2 separate regions of the Homo sapiens genome follow, and region 2 is linked to region 1. The links come from fine-mapping of genetic effects on gene expression. Tissue or cell type: testis. Region 1 holds a variant in brackets; the other region holds the start of a gene. All regions are shown on one strand. Distances are from middle to middle.

What was found. PIP is the estimated chance that this variant, and not a neighbour inherited with it, causes the effect.
Region 2: it holds the start of NEK11, and the variant in region 1 is fine-mapped to the expression of NEK11 in testis (GTEx, PIP above 0.99).

Annotation. Positions count from the first base shown.
Region 1 is chr3:130,881,097-130,889,204 of GRCh38, forward strand. The region is part of intron 1 of LOC107986023 (a long non-coding RNA gene); the gene reads right to left. It also overlaps a transcript of ATP2C1 not described here. Among named protein-coding and RNA genes, the nearest start is that of ATP2C1, 8.9 kb to the right of the region's middle. The variant C/T (reference allele first, on the strand shown) is at 3,740.
Region 2 is chr3:131,023,040-131,031,147 of GRCh38, forward strand. NEK11 (NIMA related kinase 11) reads left to right here and starts at 3,838. Exons shown (of 18, transcript NM_024800.5): 1 at 3,838-3,967; 2 at 4,891-4,963; 3 at 6,574-6,839. The coding sequence starts at 6,670. It overlaps ASTE1 (asteroid structure-specific endonuclease 1), which reads right to left and starts at 3,786. Exons shown (of 6, transcript NM_014065.4): 1 at 3,468-3,786; 2 at 2,435-2,555; 3 at 966-2,292. The coding sequence starts at 2,267. RefSeq lists enhancers at 3,438-3,677, 3,818-3,877, 3,958-4,147.

The DNA of each region.
Region 1 (8,108 bases):
GGATAAAGAGAGACTGAAAATGTTTCTGATATGAAATTGATACAGCATTTAAATGGAGGGAGGAGGCCTAGGCTATTAATGCAAACACAGCTAGAGGCCTGCAGATATGACACAGAATTTTTCCCACAGTTTTAATTTAAAACAACCAACCCGTCAGCAAAGCTTTCAAAGTTGGTGGAAGATATTGGCCAGTGGCAATTTAACTTACTCACCTATTTTAAGACCTCCTTTTCTTTTTCTTCTTCTTCTTCTCCTCCTCCTCCTCCTCCCCCTCCCCCTTCCCCTCCTTTGTCTCTCTCTCATCCAGGCTGGAGCGCAGTGGTGTGAACATGGCTCACCACAGCCTTGTCCTCCTGGGCTCAAGCAGTCCTCCCACCTCAGCCTCCCAAGTTGCTGGGACCACAGGTGCACACCACCATGCCCAGCTAGTTTTTAAGTTTTTTGTAGAGATGACGTTTCTCCATGTTTTCCATGTTATTACTTCTATTTCTTTGAGGAAAGTCATTGGCATTTTGGTAGAGATTGCATTCAATCAGTAGATTGCTTTGGGTAGCATGGACATTTAAAAATATTAATTCTTGCATTCCATGAATATAGAATATGTTTACATTGTTTTGCATCCTCTTCAATTGCTTTCATCAGTGTTTTACAGTTTTCATCATAGAGATGTTTCACTTCTTTGGTTAAGTTAATTTCTAGGGATTTAATTTTATTTGTGGCTATTACATGTGGGATTATTTTTACCTCTTTTTCATATTGTACTCTGTTGGCATATAGAAATGCTACTGATTTTTGTATGTTGATTTTGTGTCCTGCAACTTTATTGACTTTATTTACCAGTTCTAATAGTTTTTGGTGGAGTCTTTAGGTTTTTCCAATATATAGTCATATCATCTGCAAATAAAAATAATGAAACTTCTTCTTTTACAATTTAGATGTTAAAGAACATTTCTCTTGCCTAATTGCTCTAGTTAGGACTTCCAGTACTATGTTGAATAATAGTGGTGAAAAAGTGGGCATCCTTTTCATGTTCCAGTCTTAAAATAATGACTCTAAGTTTTTCCCCATTCAGGGTAATACTAGCTGTGTGTCTGTCATATACTTTTTTCTTTCTTCTTTTTTTTTTTTTCTCACTCTGTTGCCCAGGCTGGAATGCAGTGGCGCGACCTTGGATCACTACAACCTCCACCTCCTGGGTTGAAGTGATTCTCTTGCCTCTTGTAATCCCAAGTAACTGGGATTACAGGCATGCACCACCACACCTGGCTAATTTTTTATATTTTTAGTAGAGATGAGGTTTCACCATGTTGGCCAGGCTGATCTCAAACTCCTGACCTCAAGTGATCTGCTTGTCTTGGCATCCCAAAGTGCTGGGATTACAGACGTGAGCCACCATGCCCAGCACAACTTTTATTATGTTGAGATATGTTCCTTCTCTACCTAGTTTTTAAAGGGTTTTAATCATGAACAGATGTTAAATTTTATCAAGTGGTTTTTCAGCATCAATTGAAGTGATCATATGGTTTTTGTCCTTCATTCTGTTGCTATGACATATCACATTAATTGATTTGCATGTGTTGAACCATCCTTGCATCCCAAGGATAAGCTCACTTGGTCATGATGAATGATGTCTTTAATGTATTGTTGAATTTGGTTTGCTAGTATTTCATTGAGGATTTTTGCATTAATATTTATCAGAGACACCAGCCTGTAGATTTTTTTTTGATGTGTCTTTGTTCTTTGTATCAGGGTAACACTTGCCTCGTAGAATGAGTTTGGAAGTATTCCCTCCTCCTCTATTTTTTGTAATAGTTTGAGTAGCATTGGTATTAGTTCACCTTTAAATGTTTGGTAGAATTCAGCAGTGAAGCCATCAGGTCCCAAGCTTTTCTTTGCTGGAAGACTTTTTATTATGGCTTCAATCTTGTTACTTGTTACTGTTCAGGCTTTGGATTTCTTCATGGTTCAATCTTGGTAGGTTGTTATGTGTCTAGGAATTTACCCATTTCTTCTAAATTTTCCAATTTATTAGCATATGGTTGATGATACTAGCCACTAATGATCCTTTGAATTTCTGTAGTATCAGTTGCAATGTTTCTATTTTCATCTCTGATTTTATTTATTTGGGTCTTTTCCTTTTTTTTCTTTGTTAGTCTGGCTAATGGTTTGTCAGTTTTGTTCATCTTTTCAAAAGACTAACTTTTTGTTTCATTGACATTTTTATTGTTTTCTTCATTTCAAACTTATTTCTGCTCTGATCTTTATTACTTCTTTTTTCCTACTAATTTTGAGTTTGATGTGCTATTGCTTTTCTAATTTTTTTAAAGATGTATCATTAGGATATTTATTTGAAGTCTTTCTTCTCCTTCTTTTTTTTTTTTCTCCACAGAGTTTTGCTCTGTCACCTAGGCTGGAGTGCAGCCTAGCTCACTGCAACATCTGCCTCCCAGGCTCATGCAATTCTTCTGCCTCAGCCTCCCAAATAGCTGGGATTGTAGGCACCTGCCACGACGCCCAGCTAACTTTTGTCTCTTTAGTAGAGACAGGGTTTCGCCATGTTGTCCAGGCTGGTCTCAAACTCCTGACCTAACCTCAAGTGATCTGCCCACCCTGGCCTCCCAAAGTGCCGGGATCACTCATGTGAGCTGCCGCACCCAACCCTCTTTCTTCTTTCTGATGTAGGTACTTAGAGCTTAAACTTCCCTCTTAGTAGTTATAGCTATAAACTTCCCTCTTTCAATGTATCTGATATGTTTTGGTATGTTGTGTTTCCATTAGCATTTGTTTCAAGAAATTTTTCAATTTCTTTCTTAATTTCTTTTCTTTCTTTCTTTCTTTTTCTTTTCTTCTTTTTTTTTTTTTTTTGATAGAGTCTTTCTCTGTCACCCAGGCTGGACTGCAGTGGTGTCATCTCATCTCACTGCAACCTCCGCCTCTCGGGTTCAAGTAATTCTCCCACCTCAGCCTCCCGAGTAGCTGGATTACAGGCTCTGGCCACCATGCCTGGCTAATTTTTGTACTTTTAGTAGAGAGGGGGTTTCACGACATTGGCCAGGCTGGTCTCCAACTCCTGACCTCAGGTGATCTGCCCACCTCGGCCTCCCAAAGTGCTGAGATTACAGGCGTGAGCCACTGTGCCCGTTCTCCTTCTTAATTTCTTCATTGACCCACTGGTCATTCAGGAGCATATTGTTGAATTTCCACGTATCTGTATAGTTTTCAAAATTCCTCGTTATTAATTTCTAGTTTTATTCCATTGTGGTCAGAGAAGATGCTTGATATTATTTCATTTTTGGGGAACGTTTAAGACTTCTTTTGTGACCTAACATATGGTCTGTCCCTGAGACTACTCCATGTGTTGAGTAGAAGAATGTGTAATCTGCAGCCATTGGATGAAATGTTCTGTAAATATCTATTAGGTCCACTTGGTCTACAGTGCAGATTAAATTTGATGTTTGTTGATTTTCTGTCTAGGAGGTCTGTCCAATGCTGAAAATGGAGTGTTTAAGTCCCCAGCTATTTTGTATTGAGGTCTATCTCTCTCTTTAGCTCTAATAAAATTAGCTTTATATATCTGGGTGCTCCAGTGTTAGGTACATACATATTTATAATTGTTATATCCTCTTGCTGAATTGACCTCTTTATCATTATATGATGACCTTCTTTGTCTCTTCTTATAGTTTTTGTCAAGAAAACTATTTTGTCTGATATAAGCATAGCTACTCCTGCTCTTTTTTGG[C/T]TTCCATTGGCTTGGAATATCTTTTTCCATCCTTTTATTTTCAGCCTATGTGTATCTTAATAGGTGAAGTGTGTTTCTTTTCTTTCTTTTCTTTCTTTTTTTTTTTTTTTTTTTTAAGACGGAGTCTTGCTCTTGTCGCCCAGGCTGGAGTACAATGGCGCGATTTTGGCTCATTGCAACCTCCGCCTCCTGGGTTCAAGCGATTCTCCTGCCTCAGCCTCTGGAGTAGCTGGGATTACAGGCACCTGCGACAACGCCCAGCTAATTTTTGTATTTTTAGTAGAGACGGGGTTTCACCATGTTGGCCAGGCTGGTCTCAAACTTCTGACCTCAGGTGATCCACCCGCCTCTGCCTCCCAAAGTGCTGGGATTACAGGCAGGAGCCACCACGCACAGCCGGTGAAGTGTGTTTCTTATAGGTGATAGATCACTGGGTCTTGTTTTTTAATCTATTCAGCCACTCTGTGTCTTTTGGTTGGACAGTTTAGTCCATTTGCACTTAATGTTATTATTGATAAGTAGAGACTTTCTCTTACTATTTTGTTATGTGTTTTCTAGTTGTTTTGTGGTCTTCTCTTCCTTCTTTCCTTCCTTCTGTCTTCCTCTTAGTGAAGGTGATTTTCTCTGGTGGTATGATTTAATTTCTTGCTTCTTATAGTTTTCGTGTCTATTGTACGTTTTTCAAGATGAGGCTTGCAAATACTATCTTATAACCCATTATTTTAAACTTAAGACAACTTAAAACTGATTGCATAAACAAAAACACATTAAAAAAAAGAAAACTAATAGAAACTCTACACTTTAACTTTGTCCCCCTGCTTTTTAACGTCTTGTTTCTCTTTGTTTCATTGTACTATGTCTTGAAAAGTTGTCGTTATCATTTTTGGTTGGTTCACCATTTAGACTTTCTACTTGAGTACTCTACATGCCACAATTACAGTTTGTTTTTGCAATCAGTTATAATATTCTCTGATTTTCTATGTGCTTACTATTACCAGCGAGTTTGTACATATATATGTATTTTAATTTTTATATTAGATTTGGGGGTACACGTGAAGGTTTGTTACATAGATAAACACGTCATGAGGGTTTGTTGTAAATATTCATATAGATGATTTCTTATTGCTCATTAACATCTTTGTCTTTCAGGTTGAAGAACTCTGTTTAACATTTATTTTAGGACAAATCTAGCATTGATGAAATCCCTCAGCTTTTGTTTGTCTGGGAAGGTCTTTGTTCTTCATGCTTGAAGGATATTTTCACCAGATATACTATTCTACAATAAATTTTATTTTTTTCCTTTAGCACTTTAAATATGTCACACCACTCTCTCGGCCTGTAAGATTGCCACTGAAAAGTCTGCTGCCAGACATTTGGGAGCTCCATTTTATTTTATTTGTTTCCTTTCTCTTGCTGCTTTTAGGATCCTTTCTTTACCCTTGACTTTTGGGAGTCTGATATATTAAATACCTTGGGGGTAGTCTTTGGGTTAAATCTGCTTGGTGTTCTACAGTCTTTTAGTACTTGAGTGTTGATATCTTTCTCCAGGCTTAGGAAGTTTTCTGGTATCATCCCTTTGAATAAACTTTCCATCCCCATCTTTTTCTCTACGTCCTCTTTAAAGCCAATAATTTAAGAGTTATTGCCCTTTTAAGGCTATTTTCTAGATCTTATAGCCATGCTTCATTCTTTTTTATCCTTATTTCTTTTGTCTTCTCTGACCATGTATTTTCAAATAGCCTTTCTACATGTTCACTATTTATTTTTTCTGCTTGATCAATTCTGCTATTAAGAGACTCTGATGCATTCTTTAGTATTCCAGTTGCATTTTTCAACTCTAGAAGTTTTGCTTCTTTTTAACTATTTCAATTTGTTTGTTAAATTTATCTGATAAAATTCTGAATTTCTTTTCTGTTATCTTGAATTTCTTTGAGTTTTCTAAAAAGAGCTATTTTGAATTCTCTGTCTGAAAGGTCACATATCTCTGTTTCTCCTGGATTGATCCCTGGTGTCTTATTTAGTTCATTTAGTGAGGTCATGTTTTCCTGGATGGTCTTGATGTTTATTGGTGTCTAAGCATTGAAATGTTAGGTATTTATTGTAGTCTTCACAGTCTGGACTTGTTTGTGCCCATCCTCCTTGGGAAGGTTTTTCAGGTATTTGAAAGAACTAGGGTATTGTGGTCTAAGCCATAGCTGCGTGAGGGGGCACCTCAAGCCTAGTAAGGTTGTGGTTCTTGTAGACTTGTAGAGGTACTGCCTTGGTGGTCTTGGATAAAACCCTGAAGAATTCTCTGTATTATGAGGCAGAGACTCTTGTTCTTTACCCTTACTTTTTCCCAAACAAATGAAGTCTCTCTGTGCTGAGCTGCCTAGGGCTGCAGGTAGAGTGACATACTACCCCCCTGGCCCTCACTACTGGGACTGTGCTGGGTCAGACCTGAAGCCAGCACAGCACTAGGTCTTGCCCATGGCTTTCTGTAACCACTACCTGGGTACCACCCATGTTCACTCAAGTCCCTAGGGCTCTACCATTAGCAGGTGGTGAAGCCAGCCAGGTTGGTGTCTTTCCCTTCAGGGCAGTGAGTTCCCCACAGCCCCGGGTGGGTCCAGAGATGGTGTATGGGAGCTAGGGACTGCAGTCAAAAATCCTTGTATGTCTACCTGACGTTTTATTCTACTGTAGCTAAGCTGGCACTTAAACCACAATACAAAGTCCTTCCTGCTCTTCCCTCCCCTTTCCACAGGCAGAGGAGCCTCTCCCTGTGGCAACCACTATCACTGGGCCATGGGTGGTTTTCTACACCACCATTGGTATTCACTTAAAGTTCAAAGGATCTTCAGTCAGCTTGTGGTGAATGCTGCCAGGCTTGGACATACCCTTCAGGGCACTGGGCTTCCCTCTGGCCCAGGGAAGGTCATGAAATGCCATCCAAGAGGTTAGGCCTGGGATTGGGGACTTCACGAGCCCACTTGTTGGTCTAACCCACTCTGACTGAGCTGGTATCTAAAGTGCAAAACTAAGTCCTCTTTACTTTCCCCTCTGCTTTTCTCTAGCAAGAGGAGTCTCTCACCATAGCCACCACAGCTGGCAATGTTCTGGGTCTCACTTGAAGACACGTCTCAGAGTCTCACCCAAGGCCCATGCCATGATGCACTACCTGGGTATTGCGGCTGATTATTTAGTACCCAAAGGCTCTTTATTCACAGGTGATGAATCCTGCCAGGTGTGGATCCTTCCCTTCGAGGCAGCGGTTTACCTTTTGGCCCATGGTGTGTCTAGACGTGTCATCTATGAGTTAGGGTCTAGCATGGGGGCCTCATGACTGCCCAGTGCCATATCCTACTGTGACTGAGCTGGTATGCAAGATGCAAAACAAAGTCTTCTTTGCTCTCCTCTTCATACGCAGAGGAGTCACTTTTGTTGCTTCAAGCTGTGCTGCCTGGGGTTGGGGGAAGGATGGCACAAGCACTCCCTTAGATTCCCTGGCTAGTGTCTCCCCAGGTCATGTACCACCCTAGTCCAGTGGCTCTAAGCCCATCCCAGCCCAGCACTAGAAGTTGCCTAAGAACTGCAATCCCTGTGTCCTAGACAGACTTTCAAGTTTACCTAGAACCCCAGAGCACTTTGGCCTATGGTGGTGAGGCTTGCCAAAAAACTCAAGTTCTGACAATTGGGATGGTCCATTCCCCTCTGGCTAGGTCTGGTCCAAATGTTCCCTTCATGCATGAGTGCTGGCTGAGCCCAGCATGGCTTTGCTCTCCACTGTGACATGGCAGCACTGAGTTCAATAGAAAGACCACTAGCCACTGCACTCTCCCTCCCCCAAGTGCATATACTCTCTGTGTAGCAGGGCTGCTGCTAGGTTATGGGGAAGGGGTGGTGTCTGTGATTCAAGACTGTCTCTCCTACTCTCTTCAATGATTCTTTCAGTGATATGAATATAAAACCAGGTACTCCGATTGCTCTGATTTTTGGTTCTTGTGATGGTATGCAGTTAGTTGTTAAACTTTCCAGTATGCAGATATTTGTTAAAATGTGTTGTTCCTGTCGGGGGTTATCAATGGTACAGGCTTCTATTCCGCCATCTTGCTCTGCTCTCCAAAACACTTCGAATATTAAACACTGAAATAAATGTGAGTTATACATACATTTAAGAAAGATTAATAAAACAAATAAGGTAATTATTTACCCAATTATTCCAGTTCCGGGTTGTAGGTGGCTGGAGCCTATCCAGCGGCTCAGCACTCAAGGGAGGAATCAACCCTGGACAGGATGCCATTCTATTGCAGGGTACACATGTACACACACTCACTCACACTGGGACAATTTAGACACGCCAATTAACCTAACATGCACAACTTTGGGA
Region 2 (8,108 bases), 140 kb after region 1:
ATTGCCAGATGTCCTCTGGGGGACAAAATCACCAATGGTGATAAAGCTTTGGTGTAGACTGATAACAGTGCTGGGAGAACTCTGACAGAAAAGGAAGACCTGACTTAAATCCACTGGGAAGCTGTGGTTGCCGTCCTACATCCTTAAGTAGACTGGTGCCACGTGTGGTCTGTGAGTTTTGTGAGACTGAATATTTCATTGGATCTAAGAAGATCCCCTAATGGGCATTGCAATTGTTTTTTTTTTAAGTTATCTCTATTTAATGTCTAAATCTAGTTCTTTTATCAGCATAGTTTCATATCTATTTGTAATTTTAAATATATATGTAATATAAAAAGACAACACTGGGATCCATGAGAATTTTTTTCTCCTTGAAAAGGTGGTCTGGGTGTTACTCAGGTTTAAGCAACACTAAGTTAGACTAAGAGTCATGTTTTCTGTATCAAACTAGGCAAATAACCATAATGACACAAAAACCTATTTTAAAAAAGGTATTCATTAATAAAAGTTAAAAAATTAGACCTTAGCATCAGTACTAACCTTATCTGAAATCCGATGTAGTCTGAGATGTTGTGCCTATGATTAGTGTCTATACACTTTTTTTGCAGTTGTGAATTTTTTTCCTTTTTTTTTCAGCCACGTAACCCATTCTATTGATAGCTAGTATTAACCTGGTAGTAATAACAATATAGTAGTAATAACTGTGACGATAACACAGACTACTGAAGTACAGTGGAAATGGTAGATTTAGAGCTAAAAGAGCTAGGTTTGAGTCCTAGCACTGACACTTTCTGGCTAAGACATTACCTAGTTCACTCAAGTTCTAGATTTCTTAGCTACGACATGAGGGCAAGATAGCACTCAACCTCATCAGTTTGTTATAGTAAGTGAACTAATATAGAAGACAGCACTTTGTATCCTGTAAAGTACTTTACAAAAATTTCATTAGTATTACAAATACTTACCTCAGTCAATCTGCTTAAGTCAGAATGATCCTTGGCCAGTTCTACTGCATCAATGATTGAGGTTCTGATATTTTTATTAATCCTTTCCACTTCACTGAAAGCTAGAGGCTGAGGAGGCAATGCATTCCAGGATGTCTTGTCCAGATGTGGTGAGGCATTTAAAAGAAGCCCATAGATGATTTGCCTGATGGGCTGAGATATTCTGTGGGCATTTGGTTGCTGCATGTTTTCCACCTGTGTGGGAAGAATGGTCCGTCTTAGGACCAAAGCATCACTGATGAAAGGAGATAGCTGGCCTTTAGCTAAAGCCACTAATACCCATTCTGGTAAACCAAGATTCAAGGCATCTGGACAGACATAAGTACCACACTGGAAGAAGTCCTGTAGCTTCACCTGGGACTGTTGGTATTCTTCCATGGAACAGCAGAGAAGTTCCTTAACATTTTCTCGATCCTTTTTTGGGAGGTATTTCAGAACATTATCTAGTGCTTCGGTAGGGTTGGCAAAATGAGACAACCAATTCAGAAGTCCCAGGATTCGGTGGTGTCTCCTCCCTTTAGAACTGGTAGCTCCAAGAGGAAGACGCGCTTTACTTAAGAATGTCTCCATGATGGGTAGATTAACATGGTCATTTCCACATAGCACCGCAAAGAGAGGTAGTAGAGCTTTATTCATATTGCTGAAGTGATGGCAGAATGCATCAAGGGAAAAGCATTTGGCAGGGATATAGTTTTGTGTGCCCTTAATAGTGTTCATATTTCTCCACTGAAAGCTATTCAATGGGCAAAACCCAGTTTTCAGGTCAAAAATGCAAAAGTCACTATCTGATGATAACACAGGGCAATTCCAATGGTTAGCAAGTGTCATAATGTCCCGATCTGCTTCTGAAAAGCACTGGACAAAACACACCCGCAGCTTGATCAAAACCTGTATGAATACTTCCCGGATGAGTAAGGGACATACGTACCCACTCCCACCAACAGAAAGGGAATGGGCCATCTGGATCTTCTCTCTAGCTCTATCCTTTAAAGTTGTAAGCTTTTTATCTGAAATGTCACATCCTCCATCTAATACAACATATGGGCATATATTACAAGCAAACAGTGATTCAAAGAATTTTTGTACAACATCTGCAAAAGAATCATAGTCCCCTCCATACCGGAGATCCAAGTTTGAACTGAAGCAAAGACGGTGGAAAAGAGCATAACCATCAATGACAATTTTTGTGTCCCGCAACTTCAAATCAGTGAAGAACTCATTACTATGATCTTCCACAAAACTCATTAGTCCTCGGATACCCATGATGACAGTCTAAAGAATTAATCGCCTGTTTAAAACAACAGAAAACATTTTCAATTGATGCTAGTTATGGGGCACCAAGTCATTGCTTCCAGCACCATTAAATCAATAGCAAATGTTATGAAGTGCTCTTTAGATAGAACATAGATATCAACATCATAAATTCTTACCTAGATCCTCAAGCAATGTTAGCTGTGCTTTTTCATTCTCCTTTGCTTTCTGATACAAGGCACAAATTCAATGGTTTCATGGGTTGTAATCTTTGGATGGTGACAGAGGCTGCTGCTAATTCTAAAGAAAAATCAGTTGAAGTCCATTACTGACACACCAGTATAGAAGTTCTGTGAACTTTGATTCTTAAGTGGTAATAGTCAACATCTTACAGCACAGAGTATTTGTTTTGTGGGGTCAAAGTAAAAAGTCCTAAGCTAAAAAAAAGATATCATATTCATCTCATAATCACAAAGCATTTGGGCTTCAGTAAAGTAAGGTGTGTAGGACCTATGATAAGGATCAAGTTTTTCTTTTGTATTGACAATCAGTCACGGAACTTCTTTCAGGCTTTGGATTTGTGGGCCCTTCTTAATTGGCATAGTTTTTGGTATAAGGAAAACTGCTTCATGCCTCTAGGAACCCCTCTATCCAGTTACACCCCTAACCACGAGCTCTTTTCATCATCTTATTTTGCATATCTGGCCCAGCTACGCTTCCTCACCTGGCTAACTTAACTCGCAGGATCAGAATTGATGGTTTTTCTTTTGACACCTCGGGCTTCAATATGGCACAGCACGGTACTGTTACTATTACTTAAAATCGTGACATTTTGTCAGTCATGGATTTTTTTTGCTATAATTTTGATTTTTAGAGATTGCATTAAAACTTACCTTGATTACTGAATTTTATTGGCATCCATTTACATTTTACACTTATCTCACCCTAGTTCCAGCCCTGTCAGTATCTCAGAACCTTATCCTGTATAGTACTTATTTCTTTGCAAGATAGTTTTGTAAAGCGTCCATAAGCAGAGACTGTGTCAAGGCGTCCTACGCAAATTACAGGACCTTGCACAGACAGTTGCATAGAGCTGCATAGGGGAAAGGCGGGCAAAAGGTCTGACCTAAGTCTTCAAACACAGGCCTTCATACACCGTGCCACCTCGGCCCTCACAACCCGCCGCCCGGACCTGCAGCAGAGCCCACCTACTCTGTCCTCCCAGAGGAGTAGCTCCTCCATCAGAAGCCCGCTAGAGCCCAGCGAGGACTGGCTCCTGCACGTGAGAGTCCAATCTCAAGAGCGGGAATCGGAAGTCTCCCGGTGTGACGTCTCTGGGAAGTACAGTTCCGTGATGCCGGTGGCGCCAGACTGAGCCAAGGAGCAGGTGTTCTCGGGCCCAGAGGCGCTAAGTAGCTAAAGAGGGCTGGGACGTACGTTCCGAAATGGCTGCTGTCAGGCTAGGAAAGCTTGGCCCGCCGGTCCTCCTCTGCTTTCTCCGCCTACTTGGGTCGGCGAACACTTCCGCCTTGGTGCCGCCTCGCCCCGACTTCCCAGTATGCCCCGCGCCGTCTCCCTGGCCACGGTTCCAAACAGCCGTGGCCCGCGGTGTCTGGCGCTCGGTGGGTGTGGTTGCCCCTAGTTTGAGGCCTGCCCGATTACCCGCAAGACTTGGGCAGCCCCGGGCGCCGCTCCGACCACGACAGGGAAAGGTAAAGCGAACTGTCCTCCTTGGGGCTAGCCAGGCTCCCCTGCGAGGGGGAAGGTAATGGTTTCAAGCTGCCCGGGCTGGGTTCCGAATCTCTAGGACGCCATGGCTGCGATCTCCTCGCTTTCCTGGACATCTTACCTCCGGATGTACTCCAGTCTCAGTGCCCCTCAATAAACGTTAACCTGCTTTGCCAAAATGTAAATGTTTAAAAAGGTGAAGAAGCAAGGAATTGTTCGTTTTACCTTAAGGTTAAGATTTACTTTAAAGGTAGATTTGTGCTGTAGCAGAAACTGGTGACAAATTGCCTTCCTCTTATTACCTGGGAAGATAACTACTGGTTTTCAACTTGTGATAAATACTCCTTCCGTTGTCTTTTGCCCCCAGCCAGATCTGTTTCACCGAGAACGGGTAGTTTGCACAAGGTAGTAACTTTCTCCAAGTTCCCATCTAGCTTTCTTAACTAACCTTTTTTCTCTCCTTTGGGCGGCAGTTGATCTGCTGGACACTTACTTGCCTTAACAAGGTTTGTTAAACACCTAGTATATGCCAGGAGGTATGCCAGGGATTGGGGATGCAGAAATAAAGAAGATGTGTTCGCAGTGCCCAAGTTCACTCAAACCTCGAGGGGGAGCGTGTTGTCAAGTGAACAGATAGTTCTAGAATCTAGACAATGCGACACATTCTTGGGTAGGTTTATGGTTGCGCAGAGGAGACTAATGGAATGGATGACCTAAAAGTGGACTGGGATGGGGGTGGCAGGGCTGAGTCTGTGAGGGTGGGCGGGAGGGAACCTAGTCCCAGAGTCTTCTGCAGCCTGGACCAGACTACTTAAGCACTGCTGGGTTTAGACTGTCCTTTAAAATAAGAGCCGCTAGAAGTGAACTTCTCATTCTGTCCGTCCCTAATTCTGTCCTTCTCTAAAAGGAACCTTAATCTCATCTTTAAAATAAGGAGAATTACTGAGTGACCTGAAGGACCCTTTTCAGCTGGAAAGTCTGTAAGTCCATATATTTATTTGAACAGCTTAGTATGGCCAGACGGCATCACTTTTATGACAGTGAAGGGGAAGTAAAAACAAAAGGTATATTTAGAGGCCTGCTCTGTAGTTGTTTTTCCAGCAGATTTTACTAACGTGTCTTTGGAAGGGAAAAGAAAAAGCTGGTAACTAATCTCACTGGTATTAGGTACAACTTAACTGATTCATACATTTTAAGAAGGAAAATGTTGTAAATGGGCATTTACTTATGTTCTGTTTTGAGGATTTTTGTGGTTAATTGCCCTAGTAGTTTTTGTGGTTGACGGACACCACCACGTAAAGCCCATTGACCATCCTTAAAAACTAGGTTTTTGTCTCATAGCTTTGGAATTGTTGAATATGAAAACCTAACTTCAAGGTGTAGGCAGTTTTCAATTTAAAATGTTATTTCTATATAGATTTAAAACAAAAGCACACTTTTCTTGATAACTAACAAAACATTTAACATTCTGATGAAATAAAAGTGATTTTACTTTGTACCTACTCATATGAAACAGTCCTGCCTTTCTTTTTTTTGTTTTTGTTTTTGTTTTTGTTTTTGTTGAGATGGAGTCTTACTCTGTCGCCCAGGCTGGAGTGCAGTGGCGAGATCTCACTGCAAGCTCCGCCTCCTGGGTTCACGCTATTCTCCTGCCTCAGCCTCCCGAGTAGCTGGGACTGCAGGCGCCCGCTACAATGCCCGGCTAATTTTTTTGTATTAGACGGGGTTTCACCGTGTTAGCCAGGATGGTCTCGATCTCCTGACCTCGTGATCCGCCCGCCTTGGCCTCCCAAAGTGCTGGTACTACAGGCGTGAGCCACTGCGCCCGGCCTAAACAGTCCTGCCTTTCATAACTGCCACGTCTCATAGCTCCCTGAGGAATTACAGATTTATCTGTAGCATTTATATTCCACTGACATTAAATGGGATTTTAGGTTTGAATTGAATTTGTAACTCTTCCTGTTTTTAATCCAGAGAGATTATACACAATGTGTACAATAGGAACTTCAGAAACTAGAATTTGCTGAGCATGGGAAAAAATTCTCAATCCTTATCCTTCTTTGCATCTGTCCTAATAAATACAAAAACTGTGGTTTAACATCTACAGAAAAAAATAAATCTAAAGGAAACAGCACCTGCTAATTCCTTGTTTAATCCTAACTCACTCTTTGTAAACCAAAGTAAATATAAGGTGAGAAGAGGGCATTACAAAAAGGTTGATGCAGATGTATAGATTTAAGGAGGTGATAATGTTCTTGTATTTGGATTCTTTTATAAGTAGTTGGGGAGTATAAATCTTAAATAAATGAAGAGATTGCTCATTGTAAAACAGATGTACATCCCAGAAATTTGTGGAAAGTTGGCTATAATTCACTTCTGCCAAATTTCAATGTACAAAGGGAGGCTCTTCCTGTGAAAGATTGCCTTCTGGAATTTGTGGTATCTCTACCTTTTAACATTTTTTTTCAAGTTGTTAACCAATATGGTGTCAGTCTGCTGATCAAGGTGCAGATATCACTGCACTTAACACTTTTTGTTAGACATCGTTTAGCAACCTTTAGACCTGATCTTTTAACTTTTCATCTTTAAGGAACTGACCAACACTGGATGAATTTGACCATTTCTTAGGAGACTGGAATGTTAAGTTTCTATAAATGAATGAACCAGTTCTCTCTTGTTTGGAGCAATGCTGAAATTCCAAGAGGCAGCTAAGTGTGTGAGTGGATCAACAGCCATTTCCACTTATCCAAAGACCTTGATTGCAAGAAGATACGTGCTTCAACAAAAACTTGGCAGTGGAAGTTTTGGAACTGTCTATCTGGTTTCAGACAAGAAAGCCAAACGAGGAGAGGAATTGTAAGTAAAAATGCTTCCTATGAATCTTGAGTAGGCTGCTTTTTGTTTGCAGGTCTTAGCTGATTAGGAACATGGAGCAGGCCAGGTATGGTGGCTCATGCCTGTAATCCCAGCACTGTGGGTGGCCAAGGTTGGCAGATCACTTGAGGCGAGGAGTTCAAGACCAGCCTGGCCAACATGGCAAAACCCTGTCTCTACTAAAAATACAAAAATTAGCCAGGCAGGGTGGTACATGCCTGTGATCTCAGCTACTTGGAGGTTGAGGCACAAGAATTGCTTAAACCCAGGAGGTGGAGGTTGCAGTGAGCCGAGATCATGCCACTGCCCTCCAGCCTGGGCAACAGAGCAAGACTGACAAAAAAAAAAAAAGAACATGGAGTAATGTCCACTTTGCTCTTTATACCAAAGCAAGTATTTCATAAATATAGGTAAGCTCCCTAATTAATCTTTCATATTAGGTTTAAAGGCATTTCAGCAGGTGAATAAAGTATCCAAATGACCTAAAGAAGGGAGCTAGAAATGGGATAGATTATGTGAAAATAAGATGTTTGGGCATGCCACAGTCTCAGTGACAATATTACTTCCACTTAACTTGATTGGAACTTCTTGAATGAGAAAATAAGAATTGTTCATAATGACTATTTTTAGAAATGTTACAAAATGCAAATAAACAATTATTCACATTTGAGATGAATAGGGTATACCAAAGAAAGTAACAGTATTAATTTTCTTTGGGCTTTCCATGGCGAGGATTTTCAAATTCCGTAGTCAGAAAGCTGTCAGATTAAACACTTAAACCAAATGGACACTCCTATTTAAAATTAGCTTATGTTAATGACCCCCTTGTCACCTCGTCTCTTTTGATTATGATCGGACCCTCTACACTTTCATAGTAGAGAAAAACTCTTAATAGCTTCAGACAGTACCTCCCTTACAGATAAACCTCTAGTTTTTGTGTAAAGTTTTTTTAATTTGCTGCAGTGGAAAGTAAGTTGGAACTGAAGTTAGGGTAAGAAACTTGCCTATCAGAAACACAGGAGGAACAGAAAGCAGAAGGAAGAATGATCCAAGATATCAGCCCTTAACCCCAGAAGACCACATTTTCATCCCATAATATATTGTTTTCTTCTAAGGTTTTAAGGCTACTCTAAGTTCTTCCAGCTTTTGCCTATTGGATATTTAAGAGTGGATTTAAAATCAGTGTGATAAACACTTTTCTACATCTTCATAGGTCATAGGAATTGTAAAGGTAAATGTTAGTGATGTTAC